Regions from separate parts of the Homo sapiens genome. Here region 2 is linked to region 1. The links come from fine-mapping of genetic effects on gene expression. Tissue or cell type: whole blood. Region 1 holds a variant in brackets; the other region holds the start of a gene. All regions are shown on one strand. Distances are between the middles of the regions.

What was found. PIP is the estimated chance that this variant, and not a neighbour inherited with it, causes the effect.
Region 2: it holds the start of CXCR1, and the variant in region 1 is fine-mapped to the expression of CXCR1 in whole blood (INTERVAL, PIP above 0.99).

What each region holds. Positions count from the first base shown.
Region 1 is chr2:218,100,218-218,102,979 of GRCh38, reverse strand. No RefSeq gene overlaps it. Among named protein-coding and RNA genes, the nearest start is that of CXCR2, 24 kb to the left of the region's middle. The variant G/A (reference allele first, on the strand shown) is at 1,388.
Region 2 is chr2:218,165,443-218,168,204 of GRCh38, reverse strand. CXCR1 (C-X-C motif chemokine receptor 1) reads left to right here and starts at 1,243. Exons shown (of 2, transcript NM_000634.3): 1 at 1,243-1,297.

The sequences.
Region 1 (2,762 bases):
ATAGACTGGATGAAGAAAATGTGGCACATATACGCCATGGAATATTATGCAGCCATAAAAAGGATGAGATCACGTCCTTTGTAGGGACATGGATGAAGCTGGAAACCATCATTCTGAGCAAACTATTTCAAGGTTCTCACTTATAGGTGGGAATTGAACAATGAGAACACTTGGACACAGGGTGGGGAACATCACACACTGGGGCCTGTCATGGGGTGGGGGGAGGGAAGAGGGATAGCATTAGGAGATACACCTAATGTAAATGATGAGTTAATGGGTGCAGCACACCAACATGGTACATGTATACATATGCAACAAACCTGCACATTGTGCACATGTACCCTAGAACTTAAAGTATAATTAAAAAAAAAAGAAATTAGTCTTACAGGAGTCATGGACCACATAGAAATCCAGAGAGGTGATAGGGAGACAGAGTTACTACAGCCTTTGGTCTCTTAGTGACTAGAAGGAGCTGAGCTAATTTCTACATGGAATAATACCACAGCCAAGAAGATCTTAGCTTGTAAAACCACATTCCCTATAAGTAACAAGCATAATAAGCAAAAAGGCACCATCTAAATGTAGAATCAAAAAGAACCATGTAAACACACTGAGATAGTATCCTAGGTGTTTCTGCCATAGTCAATAGTTATGTAAACCAGAATCCCAAATCTACCAAAGGAATTACAGGATTCTGTTTGTTGGATGGTATAAGATAAGGGGGTATTCTCATAACAAGGAGGCACCGGGATGGCTCAGAGAGAATGGAATTAAATGAACAGAAATGTAGACAATAGCTCAGAAGTTAGTTTTCTTCCTTAACATCACTATACTACAAATTTCTTATTGCCTCTACTTTTGTAACAAAACATATCCATTCTTTAGGACAGTGATTTTTGGACTCTCTTTTTAAAGTAAGTAAACACTTTCTTTGAAGATATTTTTAAAGATAACTCATGTGAAATCCTACTTTGTAAAATTAGTAAAAGTGGATCTTTTCTGGTTGAAGTTGATTCTCATAGCAAAGGGCTCTGCCTCTTTGACCATCCTCCTTTCTCCCCATCCATCTGGCTGCCTCCTGCATTCCTCCAAATCCAAGCCCCTTTTAAAACTTTTTGAATCAGAGAACACTGTTTGAAGGTGCTTCTTTAATTAACGTCTTCAGAATTGTTTTTGTATATTGGTTATTCAGACATTTGAGAATTTCTACTTCCAACCTGAAAGTATGTATGCAGAAATGAATGTTATGATGAAGCAACTGCCTAAGAAGTTTAATTATCGGCTGTGATTCTGACTTGTTGATTATTATACTTAAAACATAAAGTGATTTCTGGCTCTGACTTAGCTTCTTTAATCAGATGGTCACCCACACTACCTTGCCCTGAGT[G/A]TACTTCAAGGCTGCAAGTCATTTTCTTGTTTGTTTTGTTGATGTTCTGTTTTCCATATTAAAAATATTGTCTCACAGATCTGGAACCAAGCATAACTTTGATAAAATAAAACAAAATGTAAAATTAAAAAAAAAAAAGAGCTGTAACACTCACTGCGAAGGTCTGTGGCTTCACTCCTGAAGTCGGTGAGACCACGAACCCACCAGGAGGAACAAAAAACTCCGGACGCGCCACCTTTAAGAGCTGTAACACTCACTGCGAAGGTCTGCGGCTTCACTCCTGAAGTCAGCAAGATCACGAACCCACCGGAAGGGAGAAACTCTGGACACATCTGAACATCTGAAGGAACAAACTCCGGACACACCATCTTTAAGAACTGTAACACTCACTGCGAGTGTCCGTGGCTTCATTCTTGAAGTCAGCAAGACCAAGAACCCACCGGAAGGAACCAATTCCAGACAGAACATCCCAGTTTTAACATTGAATGTAAGTGGCCTAAATGCTCCACTTAAAAGATACAGAGTGGCAGGATTGATTTAAAAACCACCCATCAAATATCTGCTGTCTTCAAGAGACACAAATAACACATAAGTGTTCCCAGATGAATGAGGTCCGGCTGCTTGCACTTAGGGTCCAATAACAAGATGCAGACAGACTGGGAAAGAAGGGAGTTTATTTCTGTAAATGGTTACAGGGAGAAGGTTGGAGCAACTCACCAGACCAACTCAAAGTTACAAATTTTTCCCCAGTGCTTATATATATTTTACACTCTATGACTACATGTGGGAGTGCAGCTACAAGCCAGAGTGTTTCATTCAATCTATATCTAATCTTTAACTAGAGTTTGGGGTCTGGAAAACTTTCTCTAGAGCCTTGGAAAGTTTCTTAATCTTAAGTGGGCCCTGGTATGAGGTATATGTGTTAGAATGCTTTTATTATTTGATCAGACTTTAGGGTCTGAGAAAACCCAGACAAGGTCTTAATGGGTTTGTTTTTGCATTCTAGTCCTCATACTCGATGACATGGTTTGGCTCCATGTCCCTACCCAAATGTCATGTCGAATTGTAATTCCCAGTGTTGGAGGAGGGAGCTGGTGGGAGGTGATTGGATCTTGGGGGTGGATAACCCCCTTGCTGCTCTCATGATAGTGAGTGAGTTCTCATGAGATCTGGTTGTTTGAAAGTGTGTAGCCCTTCCGCCTTCACTCTCTCTCTCCTGCTTTGCCATGGTAGGACACGCTTGCTTGCCCTTCACCTTCTGCCGTGATTGTAAGTTTCCTGAGGCCTCCCAGCCATGCTTCCTGTATAGCCTGCAGAACTGTGAGTCAATGAAACCTCTTTTATTCATAAATTACCCAGTCTCAGGTAGTTCTTT
Region 2 (2,762 bases), 65 kb before region 1:
CAGTGACTTTAGTGTGTAGCCAAAAGCAATAGACACTGAATCGTGGTGGTGACTTATGGTCCATGAATCACAGGAGAAATGTCTCCCTTCATTTATTCCACAACCATTGATTGAGCACCTACTATATTCCCTGAAAGAGAACATAAACATGAATTGAAGAAGGTTCTTGCTGTCTCATGGCTCCCAAGCTAGAAGAGGGCTGACTTGTAAATGCCTCACAGCAGGGTTCATGTTATATGGAGAAGTGACGAAGGTGCCAGAAGACTCAAGCTAGGGGACAGCCATTAGCTGCTGGAGGCAGCTAAGGTGGGTTCCCAGAGAAGCCATTCTCCGTTACTGAGATGGGGGCTGCAGTGACCTTGACCACAGCTCTTCCATTCATGGACTGCCCCAGCTCTGTGGTCTCTCTGCTAACCAGCCAGACTCTGGGAGTGGCCTATGCCGTCAGCCTCAGGGCCATTTAAACCAACTGGTCATTGGCAGTGATTGTGCGAAAGAGTGGCTGGCGGCAAAGGAGGGTTTGTGTTCCATTCAAATACCCTCAAAAAGCCTGAAAAATAAGTAGAGATTGAGGCCAGGCCTTGGAGTTGTGGAAGGTGGAGAACACTGGGAAGCCAACCTCCAAAGAAGACCAGGTTGGAGGCAAAGGAGGAAGGGGAGCTCTCGTTGGCAAACCAACAGGGAAGCCAAGGATATCCCAGTAACTGCTCTCACATCCTTGATGAGAATGCCTTGAATCCGAGCTAGGCCACCTCAAAGAAGCCTGCAAAATAAGTAGAGATTGAGTGCCTGCTGTTCAAACACAACTCAAGCGCAGTCCTCCTCCTCTTTCCCACTGGATTGCCCCCAAGTCCCTCCTATGGGGGACTCCTTCTGAAGTCTCTGCTGTAAGTCAAATCCTTCGCCCTTTATACTTGGTCAGGAAGTTGCAAGCTTCCACAGGTGATATACTAGGGAATTTAGGAATAAACAAATGGAAATAAATTCAAGAAAAGGAAAATAATAAAAATGATCATCCATAGAGTGGAGAATTCAGATAATGGACCCTCAACCCCAGCTTCACACCTGGGACCCCCACTTGGTCATATGGACCCTGGCAGTCTCTAATCACAAGTCTGTGATCCCTTGACTTAAACTGTTCTTCCCCAAATGTAGACATGGGTGGGGCTCAGAAGGGAGGTGTCATCTGATGTGGTTTCCTTATTTCCGTTTATTCATCAAGTGCCCTCTAGCTGTTAAGTCACTCTGATCTCTGACTGCAGCTCCTACTGTTGGACACACCTGGCCGGTGCTTCAGGTAGGAAGCCACCTCTGTTTGCTAGGACTTTCTGTGGGGTAGGGCTGCTTGGCTTGACTTTATTTTGGAAAATGTATTCATTTCTGTGGGAGCTGAGGATTTCTGCTGCCCGCTTCCTCTCTTGTGACCACCACTCATACATGGAGTTAGCAGGTGAAGAGGACAGCCTCCTCATCCCCTCTTTTTATACCTTGCCCTTTTGTGGGAAGAGGCTGACCATTCCCCAATTTGATGTTTATTGCTTCACCTTAAGACTTTGTCTTCAGTGAAAATGCAAATACTGGTAGGGAGGGAACACACTAAAATGTGTGGATCTGAGTGGACTCATCATACACCCTCAGGCCTGGCAGCAAATGAGAGGTGGATGATTCTGTCTTCCTCGATTTGCAGATGAGAAGACTGAAATCTATAGGGGTACGAGACCCCACTCAAGGTCATGAGACTTATTTATTTATTTATTTATTTATTTTGAGATGGAGTCTCACTCTGTCGCCTAGGCTGTAGTACTGTGGCACGATCTCGGCTCACTGCAACCTCCATTTCCCGGGTTCAAGTGATTCTCCTGCCTCAGCCTCCTGAGTAGTTGGGATTACAGGTGCACGCCACCACACCCAGCTAATTTTTTTGTATTTTTAGTAGAGACGGGGTTTCATCATTTTGGTCAGGCTGGTCTCGAACTCCTGACTTCATGATCTGCCTGCCTTGGCCTCCCAAAGGGCTGGGATTACACACGAAACTTATTAATGGTAGAATCAGGATGGAATGAAGACTGGATGCTAGGTGTCTTTACAACCAACCTCGGTGACTTTCCAAAGGCTTTCAGACTTCTCTGGAGAGTCCTGGAGCTTTGAGGGGCTCTTTAGGGGCCATCTGGGTTCGGAGATTAGCACACTCTGCCCCACAGTGGCTCAGCTTTTATCTGCTTCACATACTGGGCTTCTGGGAAGATCTTATTTCAGTAAACTATTTCACAATAGGAAATATATTTGAAAACTCTTGAATGATTCTGTGGATTTTTTCAGGGGTGGAGGGTTTCAGGGACCAAGATGGAGACTTTATCTTCTCAAATACTTAAAACTCCTTTAGACAGAGGAACAAAATATGTGCTCCTCATTTAAAGAAGGCTTAAAATATACAGTTTAATGCAATGTGTTGTTATCACTTCCTTCCCCCAGTAGATTTTAAGGAGGGTAAACAAGAATCAGGGAGAACATAGGAATAGAAATAGTAGAAGGGGACACCTGGGAACAGGTTTGCCTTCTTGCATTTTGCTTAATGCTGGCCCTTCCCTGAATGTCTAAGACCAACCTGGTCCCCACATCCAAATGCACAGACACAGCTGAGGATGGAGAAGGCTAAAGAGGGACAGAGGTAGAGACATAGGCTGAGAGGAGGCAGTTGTAGGTTGAGCTAGGGCTAAGGTGTTTTCCCCATATTCCATCTTACCCCACACTCAGGCCAGGCC